Homo sapiens: one gene and its partners. The protein of the gene in region 1 interacts with the protein of each later gene in a pairwise test. Each region holds a gene or a part of one and is shown on either strand. Other genes may lie near its edges.

Evidence for each region. The genes of interacting proteins can lie anywhere in the genome.
Region 2: the proteins of THAP4 (region 1) and SYP interact in binary tests that used the Homo sapiens proteins (3 or more experiments, as listed by UniProt).
Region 3: the proteins of THAP4 (region 1) and TNFRSF10D interact in binary tests that used the Homo sapiens proteins (3 or more experiments, as listed by UniProt).
Region 4: the proteins of THAP4 (region 1) and RMDN2 interact in binary tests that used the Homo sapiens proteins (3 or more experiments, as listed by UniProt).

The regions. Positions count from the first base shown.
Region 1 is NC_000002.12:241,626,995-241,630,728, reverse strand, and holds part of THAP4 (peroxynitrite isomerase THAP4), read left to right. Parts: intron 1-3,734. UniProt on the Homo sapiens protein: Heme-binding protein able to scavenge peroxynitrite and to protect free L-tyrosine against peroxynitrite-mediated nitration, by acting as a peroxynitrite isomerase that converts peroxynitrite to nitrate.
Region 2 is NC_000023.11:49,193,631-49,197,364, reverse strand, and holds part of SYP (synaptophysin), read left to right. Parts: intron 1-3,003; coding exon 3,004-3,199; intron 3,200-3,734.
Region 3 is NC_000008.11:23,143,465-23,147,198, reverse strand, and holds part of TNFRSF10D (tumor necrosis factor receptor superfamily member 10D precursor), read left to right. Parts: intron 1-126; coding exon 127-238; intron 239-1,277; coding exon 1,278-1,531; intron 1,532-2,109; coding exon 2,110-2,141; intron 2,142-2,563; coding exon 2,564-2,749; intron 2,750-3,734. UniProt on the Homo sapiens protein: Receptor for the cytotoxic ligand TRAIL. Contains a truncated death domain and hence is not capable of inducing apoptosis but protects against TRAIL-mediated apoptosis. Reports are contradictory with regards to its ability to induce the NF-kappa-B pathway.
Region 4 is NC_000002.12:37,970,116-37,973,849, reverse strand, and holds part of RMDN2 (regulator of microtubule dynamics protein 2), read right to left. Parts: intron 1-3,734.

The sequences.
Region 1 (3,734 bases):
TGGCTCACCGCAACCTCCACCTCCCGGGTTCAAGCAATTCTCTTGCCTCAGCCTCCCGAGTAGCTGGGATCACAGGCATGCGCCACCACACCCAGCTAATTTTGTATTTTTAGTAGAGACAGTGGTTTCTCCATGTTGGTCAGGCTGGTCTCGAACTCCCGACCTCAGGTGATCCACCCGCCTCGGCCTCCCAGCTTCTCTTGGAATTTTAAAGCTGTTTGTAGTTATCAGAGCTAATGCTGCTTTAGACAGCTTCTCTCTGTTCCTCTTGGTTAAACTTCCTGAAGTTTGTCTCCATTACAGGTTTTTGCAAACAGCCAGCCCTTCGTGTCTCTGAGTTGTTGTTTATGCTGGTTAATCCTTACATCTTTTTGCTTTGTTGGGTTTTTTCTTGTAGTTCTGGTTCCTGGCGTGTTCCTTAACCCTGCAATGGAGGCTGTGGCTCTGCTGTTCCTTGGGCTGCGTGCCATGGATCTGCCTCTCTCTGCTTTTGTTGCTGTTCATTTCTGAGTCGTTTGTAATTCCAGCCTCGATGCCCCCTTTAACCCTGTGGTTATTTAAAAGGGTGTTGACAGATTTTTCAGTGCACACAGATTGGGCGAGGGGAGCAAATTTTTTTGTAGTTACTTTAAAATTTGATTGCATTAAGGTCTAATGGTAAGGACTGAAGGAGTTCTGCTTTTTGGAATCCTTTGAGACTTCACTGTGGCTAACACAGTCCCTTTTTGTGACTGTTGCAGTGTAGTGCTAGAAGAATGTATCCTCACCACTCCTTGGTTATATTGTTCCCGCCTGAAGCTGGGCACTTGCTTACTTGTGTTAGTCAGCGGACCAGAGCGTTCCCTAGCTTCTTGTCAGGCTCTCGGTCTGCTGATTTCCAGGAAAGGTGAGGTAGACCTCCCCTGTGGTTCTGGAGGTGCCCGTTTCTGCTTGTATGTCCAAGTTTTGCTTTCTGCCTCAAGACCATGCTGTTTGATGCATAAGTTTTCCTGTTACCAACACAAGAAACTCCTTTTTGTCCCGTTTAACGTCTTATTTCTTCATTTCCTTATTTTCAACCTTTTCATCTTATTTTATAGTTATATTTTTAACTCAATCCAAAAGTCTTTTTGTAGAGTAATTTAGTCATTTACAATTGTGATTACTGATAAGTGGGAATTCGGGCCTACCTTTTTAATTTGTTAGGCTTCCTCACCGTTTTCTTATTATTCTTCTAGTGGATATGTTTCAATTTTTTCTTTTCTTTTTTTTTTTTTAAGAGACAGGGCTTTGCTCTGTCACCCAGGCTGGAGTGTGGTGGTCCTATCACAGCTCACTGCAGCCTTGACCTCCTGGGCTCAAGCCATCCTCCCACCTCAGCCTCTCGAGTAGCTGGGACTACAGGCACATACCACCACATCCGGCTAATTTTTAAAATTTTTTGTAGCAATAGGGTCTTACTATGTTGCCTGGGCTGGTCTTGAACCCTTGGCTTCAAGGGATCTTCCCGTCTCAGCCTCCCAAAGCTCTGGGTTTATAATTGTGAGCCACTGTGCCCAGCCCATCTTTCAGTTTTAAAAACAAACACGTGAGCCCCTCTTTGTGTAACTGTTGAGAGCTGATCGGTCCTGTGTGCCACCTTCCCTAGGTGGAGGCTGTATGTCATCTTAGTTCCGGTGCTTCTTATTCCCCCATCAAGCAACCATGATTATTAGATTGAAGTATACATTTTACTGGTTACTTTATTTACCATTGTTTGCTGTATCCAAGTTTCCCCTCCTTTTTGGCAGTATTTAATGACTTTTTTTTTTTTTTTTTTTTTTTGAGACAATCTCAGACTGGAGTGCAGTGGCATGATCTCGTCTTACTGCGGCCACGACCCCCTGGGCTCCAGCGATCCTCTCACCTGAGCCTCCTGAGTAGCTGGGACTACAGGCATGTGCCATCATGCCCGGCTAATTTTTTGTGTGTTTTTTTGTTTTTTTGTTTTTTTTGTTTTTTGTTTTTTTTTTTGTAGAGATGGGGTTTTGCCATGTTGGCCAGGTAAGCCACCGCACCCAGCCATGACTTTAAAAAAAAAAAATCCTATTCCAGTACAGTTTTGAGGGGGGCGCTGGTGACTGTTGTGGCAGTCCCAGGGTAGATGGCGATGGCTCAGACTTTAGGGAGGAAGTGGCGGTGGTAGCAATGCTGGAGTACTGGCTGGGTTCAGGGGGTTGAGAGGCAAAAGATCAGCAGGCCAGCTACAGGGATTAGGCTTGAGCACCTGGAGGATGCTAAGTGGGAGAGGCTTTTGGGGAGGAGCAGGAGATGGGGGTGAGGAACGGAGTTTGAGATGCTCTTGGGTGCTGAGGCCAGAGTTTGAACAGGCAGTCTGAGGCCAGCAGCTGGCCTCTGGGATTTGGGCATGTGAGTGTGGGGGTGGAGGGCAGAGGTGTTTGAAGCCTTGGGGGGTCGAGTGTGGTTCTAGGCTGGGCTTCAGTGCCCGGCCCAGGAGCAGGCCTCGCTGAGAGAGGGGCAGCCGAGGCGGGTCCAGGGGAAGGCTGAGGGGTTGTTCAGGAAAGAAGGGTGACTTGCTGTGCTGGGTGCTACTCTGACCAGAATGGAGAGAAGGGGGCTGGATGTGCCCCAGGATAGTGGAGAGAAGGGGGTTGGATGTGCTCCCAGGGTCGCTGGTTACTGGAATCTCACTGGAGAGGCTGGTGGAGCTGGGCGGAGAGGGGGCCAGTGATGAGGGGTCAGGGCCAGGTTTGGCCGTGAAGTGGAGTGAGGCAAGTAGACAGGAGCCAGAGGGAGTGTGGCTCCAAAGAGAGTGTGTCAGTGGGGAGGGCTGTGAAGGGCCAGGCTCTGGAGAGCAAGGGACAGGTGCAGGCACCACCCTGCATGCCTTGTGCCCCTCCAAAGGTGAGGCCAGGCCACGGCTGGGCATGCGGTGTGGGCACAGGGGTGGCAGGAGCGAGGGTGTGGTGGGGAGAGGACATCCTCTCCCTGGGGTTGCAGTCTGTCACGCCGGCGTCGCAGGCCCTGGGGTCTGCACTCTGTGGTTCTTGCTGTCCGTGTGGATTTGTTCTTCAGTGACAGACTCTTTGGGTCATTCTTTAGGGATTTATGTGGAAAGCGCCGCACACTTGTCTATTCAGCTCGCTAGCCAGTGTCTGCTTTTGGGCAGGTTCCCCAAACTGAAGGATGCGGGCCAGTGGGCTTCAGAGGTGGGTTGAAGCCACGCTCCAGAGGCAGTGCCCGGTGGCGTTCTGTGGACGTAGTGTTCTTCTCCGCCAGCAGCGATTCCTTGAGGGTACATTGTTAGCACGTCTATGAACCACGTGTTCGCGGTCTTGCTTGCCCACTGAGTTATAAACGTTCTTGATACAGTAAGGATACCAACGCCTGTTAAATATTATTCACCTGTTTCCTAAGTTCAGCAATTTAACACTTGCTTCAAAATCTGTTTTCTTTTTATTCCTTTATGGATTCATTATCTACATATAATTCTTGAAATCTGGATTGTCAAAATCCAAGTACAAAACAAGTGAACCTTAATGTAAACTATGGACCCTATTTGTAGCAATGAATCAGTATTGGTTCGTAACTTGAGACACACATACCCACACTAATGCAAGATGTTAATCATAGGGGAACAGGGCAGGGGGTGAGAGGGTGAAGGAATTCTCTGTACTACCTGCTGGATTTTTCTGTCCTAAAAACAATCTGTTAATAAATAATAAATGGAAGCTGAAGAGTTTGGAGAAGTGCAG
Region 2 (3,734 bases), on another chromosome or scaffold:
ACACATTTTTGAGAACTTATTTTATATCTGGTACTACTCAAAGTGCTGGAAGCATGATAGTAACTAAAACAGACCCAACTCCCGCCAGGCACAGTGGCTCACGCCTGTAATCCCAGCACTTTGAGAGGCCGAGGTGGGCGGATCACCTGAGGTCAGGAGTTCGAGACCAGCCTGACCAACATGGAGAAACCCCGTCTCTACTAAAAATACAAAATTAGCCAGGCGTGGTCATGCATGCCTGTAATCCCGGCTACTCAGGAGGCTGAGGCAGGAGAATCACTTGAACCTGGGAGCCGAAATCGCGCCATTGCACTCCAGCCTGGGCAACAAGAGCGAAACTCCATCTCCAAAAAAAAAAAAACCAGACCCAACTCCCTACCTTCATGGAGCCTACATTATAACAAATAAATTAACAAAGAGGATAATAGCAGACTGAGAGAAACTCGAGGAGATCCTCATGTAGGGTTTTATGGTAGAGAATAGAATAATGAGGGGTGCTGCTTAGATATAGGGAAAAATTAAACCCAATTAAACAATTCTGACATTTATTGAGCTCACACTGTGTGCCGGGCAATACACTGGGTGCTAGGTGCACAAGAATGAGCACGGCTGGCATGGGCACTACCCTCACAATGATGTTTACCTCCTGCAGGGTGGGATGACAGAGACCCACAGACACAATCCCCGCACAGGTTTCTGAGACTCCCCCACTATTTGGCCAAATCACATAACCACTCTGGGTCTCAATTTCCTCATCTGTAAAAAGGAATACTAATAATATCTACCTCACAGGGTCGTGGTTAGCATTCAATGAGTTAATATTCATCAGGTGCTTAGCACAGTGCCTGGCACACAATAAGTGCTCCATCAGTGTCTGTTCAATAAGTAAAATAAATTTAAGGGACTCAGGAAAGAGGACAGGGGTTGAGTTGGAAACTGGGGGTCTTCGAGTACTGAGGGTAAATGTAGGCTCAAGTGATCACCCAGTGGGGAGATGGAAGAGTGAAAGTAGAAGAAAACCTAGCACAGGCCCTGAGCAATGATGGAAAAGAGAGGAGATGCCGGGAAAGTGTGGCCTGAGAGGCAGAGGGGCAGCCAGGTATCCATGGGTCCACAAAGGCAAGGGAGAAAAGAGTCTGGGGAAGGAGGGGGAGCTGGCAGCAAGGGACACTGCTTAGAGCCAGTCCTTTGGGGATCCACAAGACCACAACCATCCCCTGTGCCCCCTCCCCACGCCTCCCATGTCTAGAACTTTGGGTCCTAAGGCTCTAGCCCACAAGTCCCCTAGAAAAACAGTCTTGGCCCTGGGTCCCCCTGAGCAAAATCCCTCCCAAACTGCCCTAATACCCAAGGACCTCTCATTCCCTCTTAGGGACCCCCTCTCCTGACCCAGCCCACTAGAAACAGAAACTCAAACCCAGATGCAACTCCTAGCTCCATCATTTAGGAGCTGTACAACCTTGGGCAAGTAATAACCTTGCTAAGCCTCTGTTTATTCATCTGTAAAAAGGGTCTAATAATGCCTTCTTTAGAGAATTGCTGGAGGCTGTCATTAATGAGACATTTATGTAAACTGCTTAGTAGGTGACTAATAAGTGCAAGCCTCTTCCCTCAGGGCCTTTGCTACACAAAGGCATTGGCACCATTTGCTCAGTCTCAGGATCCTGGCCTCCAATCTGAGACTGTGCTCCAGAACTTCTCCCACAGACATTTTCTCTCTACAACCCCCACCTCTCCTCCATCACACCACAGGAAAGGCCTTAGTCCCAGGACACCTCCCCTCTTCCCTCACATACACACACCCTGTTCCAAGATCCCTTTACCCTCCTTTCTTTCTGTCTGTCTTTTCCTGTTATCTAGTCGCTGGCCTCTCCTCTGCTATGCATACATTTTTTTCTCTCGGGGACCTGAACTGGGGTGGGGGAGAAAAGTCAACATGAGATAGGGAGAAAACAAGGTTCAGATCTCAACTCTGACATTCCCTTGCCAGCTGTGTGACTTTAGGCAAGTTAATGCACTTCCCTGAGCCTCTGTTTCCGCCTCTGTACATTTCATTTGATAAACATTTCTTGAGTGTCTGCTAGGTGCCAGCACTGTTCCAGGGCCTGGAGATAAACGGAGGTGAAAACACAGGAAAAAGCCCTGCCCTCTTGTAGTTACAGCAAAAACCAAGATTAAAAAAAAAAAAAATACCTGGTATGTCAGATGGGTACCACTACTATCGAGAAAAGTGGAGCAAGGAAGCCAGGCTAAGAAGTGCTGGTTGAGAGAATGTTTCAATTTAATTTTAAGTAGGGAGATCAGGGAAGGTCTCAATGAGAAGGTGACAGTTGAGCAAAGCTTCAAGGAGATGAGGGAGGCCGGGCGCAGTGGCTCACGCCTGTAATCCCAGCACTCTGGGAGGCCAAGGCGGGCAGATCACAAGGTCAAGAGATCAAGACTATCCTGGCCAACACGGTGAAACCCCGTCTCTATTAAAAGTACAAAAATTAGCTGGGCGTAGCGGCGCATGCCTGTAATCCCAGCTACTCAGGAGGCTGAGGCAGGAGAATCGCTTGAACCCGGGAGGCAGAGGTTGCAGTGAGCCGGGATTGTGCCACCGCACTCCAGCCTGGTGACAGAGCAAGACTCCATCTCAAAAAAAAAAAAAAAAAAAAAAAGGAGATGAGGGAGTAAGACCCGAAGCTATCTAGGGGAAAAGCATTCCTGGCAAAGGGAACAGCCAGTACAAACAAAGATCCTAGGGAGGGAGGATGCCTGGCAAGTTCTAGAAATAATCAAGAGGCCAGAGTGCTTGGGTTGGAGTGAGGGATGAATAACACCTATCTCACCAGGATGTTTTGAGCAATCAGTGAAATGTGACTGGTACATAGTAGGTGCTCGATGAATGGTTATTTCCTCCTCTTCCTGGGGCCTTGTCAGAAATGGGGGGACCCATGATTGGGCTGGAGGGTTGAGGGTGTTCTGAGGGGCTGGGCCACACCTGCCCACCTCTGTTTGCAGGCTGCACCAAGTGTACTTTGATGCACCCACCTGCCGAGGGGGCACCACCAAGGTCTTCTTAGTTGGGGACTACTCCTCGTCAGCCGAATTCTTTGTCACCGTGGCCGTGTTTGCCTTCCTCTACTCCATGGGGGCTCTGGCCACCTACATCTTCCTGCAGAACAAGTACCGAGAGAATAACAAAGGGCCCATGCTGGTGAGTCCCCACAGCCACTTGCATGTAGGGACCATGGGGACACGGAACCCCAGGGACACAGCCATGCTCACAGACCACACCAAATCCCAGACAGGCCCACATGCAAACAGCCACCATAACAGCCACACATATAGTTGCTGCTGCTATTAATCCACACCAGGCATCCGGGACACAGAGTCATAGAGTCACGGAGACATACAGCCTATGCAGAATCCCAGACAGGCCCACACCTGAGAACCTTCCCACTCTCACACAACTACACAGCCTAGATCAAAGGAAGAGGCCCACAGAGGTTCGCTGTGACAGTCATGCCTGTCATCATGCCACACAGACACACTGATTCCTACACCACTGTACTCACATACCCTCAGCCTAGACACAAAATGACAAAAATTCCCACATGCAGACAAAAGTAGAAAGACACATTACTTTCCACAGATTCGGAAATCATCCCAGAGTTCCCCTCCCCCCAACACCCACAGCCACATATCACAATCACACTCCCACATCCTCTGTGTCATGTACACACACAAGC
Region 3 (3,734 bases), on another chromosome or scaffold:
AGAAACCAGCCCTCAGAACTCCTTGGTGAACTGAGTTGAGCTGAGTGGGAGGGGATGGGGTGGTGAGGAAGGGTGGACAGACATGTCAGGGAAACACATTCTCAAAACCTTATGCTCTGTTGTCAGGTCAAACAAATAAAAGTTCCTGTACCACGACCAGAGACACCGTGTGTCAGTGTGAAAAAGGAAGCTTCCAGGATAAAAACTCCCCTGAGATGTGCCGGACGTGTAGAACAGGGTAAGACAGCAGCCAGGGGCTCCCAACAGCTTTCAGGAACCTGAAAAGACCTGATTCACCTGGTACCTCTATCTCTCCGCTGACCCCATGGATCCTCCAGGCCCGAGGCCTCCCTGAGCCTGTGGGGTTTCCTGAGCCTGCGTTGGCCCCTCCTGGTCCATCTGCCTGTCCCCACCCCTACCCCCTGCAGCAGCCCCTTCCCATACCCTCCCCAGCAGGAGTCCCTTTGTCCAGGCTGAATTGTTCACTGGGCACAGGAGGTGACTTTCTAGGTCCCTTGAACCTTTTCAGGCAACCTAGGAAATGTAATTTCCTTTTGAAATCAGAAGAAAACACTTGAATCCAGCCTGGCTTGTATTTTTCCTTACTCTAAGTTGGTTTAAAAAATGTAATTTTTAATATTTTTTATGTGGGCAGGGACCCATAAAGACAAAAGTGTCCGTAGCCCACAAAAGTCATAATAAGGCCATGGGTGGAGCTCCCTTAAGTTCCCATGAGGACCTGAGCCCACCCAGCCGGCCTCACCCCTGGCCCCCGATTTCTCACTAAGTCCTTCTTTATCCTATTTGGGTTTTAGGGGCAAAGAGTAACTTGCTCTTCTCTGGCCCTCCAGTGTTTGCTGTGGTTGGGAGGAACCAGCGGCAGACAGGGTGGGGCGAGGACTCACTTGTACTGTGTGTTAACTGGAGGAAGGGGCTCAGCTTGTGGCCACAGGGGCTTGTGATCTTCCCCTGGAGTGCGGCTCCTCCTAACGCAGGCCTCCCCTGCAGCCCAGGGAAGCTCAGTGTGTGCCCAGCACAGAAGGCTCCTGGATCTACAGCTCTGACCCCAGAGCAGGGAGGCCGAGGGGCTGAAGTGTGCATGCTCAGACCCTTCCCCAGCCTCAAGAAGGGAGCACAGGGGGACCCACTGCTGACACGAGGAGCCTGTCCTCCTGACGCCTTCTCAGGGACTTTGGGCAGGGAGGGTGGCTCCTCTTTCATCCCACCTGGCCAGCTTTCCATCAAGAGTCCCTGTCTCCCTCTCTGTGTGTACCCAGGTGTCCCAGAGGGATGGTCAAGGTCAGTAATTGTACGCCCCGGAGTGACATCAAGTGCAAAAATGAATCAGCTGCCAGTTCCACTGGGAAAACCCCAGCAGCGGAGGAGACAGTGACCACCATCCTGGGGATGCTTGCCTCTCCCTATCACTACCTTATCATCATAGTGGTTTTAGTCATCATTTTAGCTGTGGTTGTGGTTGGCTTTTCATGTCGGAAGAAATTCATTTCTTACCTCAAAGGCATCTGCTCAGGTAGGTGCTGGCTGAGGGTGGGAGCGCTGGGCACTGTCTGCCCTGCCCTCTCCCACTCCGTTCCCACAGACAGTAATCCCCATCCCTGCCCCTGGTCCAAGCGTCTCCAGCCTGGCTTGGTCTTCCTTCTTGTGATCGCCCCATCCCCACGTCCTGTGTATCCCCAAGGACCCTGGTCTCATCAGTCCCTCTCTCAGGGCTGGGGGACCCCTCATCTCCCGGAGCCAACTCCAGGAGGGCAGGGCCAGTTCCTCCTATCTTCAGGCCCAGCCAGGCAGGGGGCAGTCAGCTCCTCAACTGGGTGACAAGGGTCAGGATGAGAAGTGGTCGTGGGATTTATTCAGCCTTGGTCAGAGCAGAACACAGAGATTTTCCACGTGTTGGTTTTTACTCTAGTTCCCCTTCTCATCCCCCTTCCTCAGGGTGTCCCCTAATTGCAAGGCCCCATTCTGTCCCCAGCCCCAGGGCTCCTTGTCCAGTGTCCCAGCCCCCAGCCAGCCCTGCGCCCCACTGTCCTCTGGGAGGGAGGTGCTGCATGGGCCCCTCCCCGCCTGCTCAGGAGACTGCTTCTTTTCCAGGTGGTGGAGGAGGTCCCGAACGTGTGCACAGAGTGAGTTGGTTTCTCCAGAAACTGGGGGCTTCGTGGGTTCAGGAACTGCTTCCCATCCACTGCCGAGCCTGGGTGGGCACAATCCCTTGTCCTCATGGCTGCCCTGACTCTCTGACATGGCCTGGGGGATCTGGGCTGACTGTGGGGGACACACGGCCATTTTGAGCAGCACACAGACCAGCAGGCCGTGCTGCAGCCCTGTCCTTCCTGCAGCCTCGGTGACACCATCACTCCACAGCTGGCCCCATGGGGATGGGGTGACCACCTGACCCACCTCAGCATGGGGTCCTGGATGTGCTGAGCCTCAGCTGCCTGGGGTGACCTCATTGGAAGGGGTTGGGGATGGCAGGTCCAGCTGTGTACTGGGGACCCTGAAGCTGAGCCCGGGGTGTGGACTTGAGTGGGCTCTTTGTCTTCCCAAGGTCCTTTTCCGGCGGCGTTCATGTCCTTCACGAGTTCCTGGGGCGGAGGACAATGCCCGCAACGAGACCCTGAGTAACAGATACTTGCAGCCCACCCAGGTCTCTGAGCAGGAAATCCAAGGTCAGGAGCTGGCAGAGCTAACAGGTGTGACTGTAGAGTTGCCAGAGGAGCCACAGCGTCTGCTGGTGAGTTGAGGAGGGACTGTGCCCTGCCTGGCGTGCAGCCTGCACAGGACTTTGTAGACAGTGGGACATGGCAGTGCCTCCTCTTTCCTGGCCCAAGGGGACATGGAGCCTTTGGGAGACAGGGGACTGCAGGGGACGGAGCAGCTGCACTGAGGTGGTGACCGTGCCAGTCTGCAGGACATCTGCTTCTTACTCCCTGTCCTGTCCTTGCTGTGTCCCCAGAGCCTGGATCTCCACAGGCATAGAGTGGGTGTCACAGGGTTCACTGAGGACTGAATAAGGCTGCACAGTCTCCATCGTGTGCTCCTAACAGAAGTCAGGGAGCCCTTGCTTGAAACAGCGGAAGTTTTAAATGTTCTTCAAAATTCTTACTACATTGAACATATTTCACAGTAAATCTTTGTCCAGATTTCTGATCAAGTATGTAAGGAGGCTTCTGGGAAGAAGTAGGATTTCTGAGTCAGTGTGTAGAAGTGCTTTTGTATTACAGAAACACACACATCCAGTTATTCACATCGATTCACTAGTTTTGATATGACATTGAGTAGGTGTGAAATCTGGACACACATTTGTTTTTTTTTAAGTTCTTTCCTTCAGGATAAAATAAGATGATCCTACCTAATTTTTTGTGGACTTTTAAAGAATGATTTGGTTTGTAGCATACACCAGTGGAACGTAGGTGCCATTTCTTTTGTGATGCTGTGTGAAGTGAGGAATTCCCTGAATTGTTGTGAGTCACTGTCTCCTTCCTCCACGCCTGTTTAGGAACTGATTCTCCTATTTTTCTCTGCTTTTGGCTCCTCTTTGATCACTTGTCAAATACTTACCTAGACAAGGTTCACTTTCCACCCATTTTCTTCCTTTCCTATAACTATACCCCATTTTTTTTAATGAAGGGAAGTATAAAAAGGTAAGGAAATAAACAAAAAATATCAACAATTACTCCACGCTGCTGAATCGCATTGCACCTTTGTTTTGTAATTTG
Region 4 (3,734 bases), about 200 Mb from region 1:
GTTACCTCTTTGATCTCATTTCCTACTACTCTTCTTATTCAAATACACACAGGTCACCTAGCTGCTCCTTCAATATTCTAATCACGTGCCTACCTCGGAACCTCCACTTGCTGTTCCCTTTAATGAAACGCCGTTTCCTTAGACAGCCACATAACTCACGCCCTCACCTCCTTCAAGTCTCTGCTCCAATTTCATTTTCTCAATGTGGCCCATCCAGACCACTCTAATACCTCAATCCCCACATTCCCTTCATCTCTAACCTCCCTCATAATGCTTTTTTCTTTTCCCATAGCATGTATTACCTTCTAACATACTGTATAATTTACTAATCTACTACATGTGCTGTTTGTCAGTATCCTCCCCAGGAGAATGCAAGCTCCCTGATGGTAGGTTCATTAACTGATGTATCAAGTGCCTAGAACAGCACTATTCACTGAATTTGCTGAATGGATGATACAGTTGTAGGAACTCAGCAGGCACTCAAAACTGTGTGTGTAAACTCACAAAAACACATATTTATAGTTCAAGATGATCTAAGTTTAAACTTTAACGTGGTTTTTAAAAATTAATACTATTGCCTACATTTCATTTTTGCCAGCAAACAATACAAACAACTTATTTTTATTAATTCAGACTCTGCCTGTTCTAAAAAGGTTTTAAGGAGGTATACAAGGATATATAACATATAAGAGAATAAATTAGAAATAGTGAAAAAAGACAAAGGCCAAATGTGAATGAAGTCAATATAAAAAACACACAAATTTTAGATAGCTATACCTTTGCTACAAAGGACACAAATGTTCTTCATTTTCTAGCATGCAATGCAATCAGCTTCACAACTTGCAGCTCCCGTTAGATAGAAACAAACAAAAAAACTAACAAAGCAAGTTCTTAAATTTCTTTCATATGCCTTACAAAGAAGATACTGTATGAACTGATCTCCCACTTCTTCAATAACATTCTTTACTAACGGAAACTCTACTCTTCCAATTGCTCAAACCAAAAAACTTGGAATCATCCTTGATGCTTTTTTCTTTCTCTTAAGCAATACCCAGTCTGTTAGCAAATCCTGCTGGTTCTATCGTCAAAATACATCCAGAATCTAGCCACTTCTCCCCACCTCTCCCCACTACCACCTTGGTCTAAGCCTCCATCATCTCATCTGGATTACTGCAATGACCCCTTATCACACCTCTTTGCTTTAGTCCTTGACCCTTATATTCTATTCTCAACAGAGTAGCAAGAATAACTCAGATCACGTCACTCCTTTGCTCAAAACCCTCCATCAGATGTCCAAGTCAGAGTGAAAACCTAAGTCCTTTCAGGGGTCTACAAGGCCTAACATAATCTGGCCAATACCTCTGGTCTTATCTTCTATCACTTTCCTGCTTGCTCACAGCATTCCAGAAACTCTAACTTCCTTGATATTCCTTGAACATATCAGTCATGTTCCTGCTTTAAACCCTTTGTATTTTTTCTTTCTTCTGCCTGGTATGTTCTTCTCCAGATATTCATATAGTTTATTTCTTTGCATATTTCATATCTTTGTTCAAATGTAATCTTCTTATTATTGCAGATGTTATGATTATTTACATAAAAATAAAAATTCTACAAATTTTGATTAATAGGAGAGTATAGCAAATTGGCTGAATATAATATTAACATATGAAAGTCAGTTTAATTTCTACATATCAGCAAAAAACTACAAACATAATTAAATAAAATATTCAATTTGCAGTGACCTCAGAGAATATCAAATGGCTAGGAATAAATCTAACAAAAGATATGTGAAAATTCAATGGAGAAAATTATAAAAGCATATTAAAAGATGTTTCTAAAATGACCTAAATTCATGGAGAAATATATCACGTTCATGGTTTAGAAGACCCAATATCATAAATATGTGAATTCTTTCCAGGTTAATCTATAGATTCAATGCAATTCAAACTTTATAAGCCTAATAGGAATTTTTGTAGAATTAAATAAGATGATTCTAAAAGTTATATGAAAAAGCAAAGAGCCCAGGACAGCCAAAGCACTCTTAAAGGGAGCAAGGAGAGAAGACTTACCCCACCAGATTTTAGGACCTACTATGAAGCTATAATAATTAAAGACAGTGTGGTATTGGTACAGCAATAGATGAGTGAATGATAGAACAGAGCCTAGAAACAGACCCACATGCATATGAAAATGTGGTACATGGGAGAGTTGGCATGTAAGATCAGTAGGAAATTCAGGCATTCAGATGGGAAAAATTGTTATCTCTATGGAAAAAGATGAAATTGAAACTCTACCTTATATTTTTAAAAAACATAACTGGATAGTTTAAGAAAATGTTATATATTTTAAAAATCTAGTACAAAATACAGACGAATATATTTTAGTCCTTGGGGTAAGACATATGAAATAGACATTATGGATCATCTATTCAAAATTAAGCGTCCAGAAATAATTTCTTAAAATTATGATCAGTTTATTTTGATAAGAGTGCCAAGACAGTTTAGCGGAGGAAACAATACTCTTCAACAAATAGTGCTAGAACAAATGGATAAGCAAATGCAAAAAAGGAACTCTCACTTCCTATCATATATAAAAATTAACTCAAAATGTATCAAACCTAAGTGTAAGAGCTAGAACTATAAAATGTTTGACAACATTTTATATGTATATGTTTTCTTTCTCATAAGAAAACATAGGAGCAAATATTTGTGATCTTGGATTAAGCAATGGTTTCTTAGACATGACATCATAAGCACAAGTGACAAAAGAAAAAAATGAATAAATTAGACTTTATCAAAATGAAAAACTTAGGTGCTTCAAAAGATACCATTAAAAAAGTGAAAAAACCCACAGAATAGAAGAAAATATGTTATGAATCATATATCTGATAAGAGACTTGTATACAAAATATATATAAAACTCTTAACAATTCGACAATAAAAAGACAAATAATTCAATTTAAAAATGGGCAACTCTGCAAATAAAAACCACCAAATTATGTAATTTAAAAGATGGAGCTTTATGGTAACAAATAATATACAGCTTTTATAAAGGTATAAAGCTATTATCTTTATGTTATTCTTTATAAGAACAAAAACTCAAATGTTGCTATAGCCATTAAATGAATTACATCAGAATTATGTATCTACTGCAACTTGCTCTCTATCTCTTGCTCTAATTCTGTCTCTCCCATGCACACATAGAATAGTTTTATTGTGAAATCTGCCATATATCCAAATAATTAGGCTTATTCAAATTCTTCTAAAGAATTACTAAAGATGGAATGCCCCTCAGGTTTATTTTATAAAACTAATATAACTGACACAAAAACCAAACATGAATATTACAAAAAATAAAAATTATAGGCCAATCTTACACATAAACATAAATGCAAAAATCCTCAATAAAATATCAATCAAGCTATTGCAACAAATATAAAATTATGTATTACAACCAAATTGAGATTATACTAGAAATTACAAGCACAGTTTGACATTAGACAATTTCTCTGGCGCAACAGATGAGACCTATCTGATCAATTCAGTCATTACCAAAAAAATTTTTTTTTCCAATAAATTCCAACACCACTTCAGGACAAAAGAAATACCAAAGCCTTAAACAAGAAATAGAAGGCAGCCAGGTGCGGTATATTCCCAGCACTTCAGGAGGCAGGAAGATCACTTGAGCCCAGGAGTCCAAAACTAGCCTGCACAACATGGCAAAACACTGTCTCT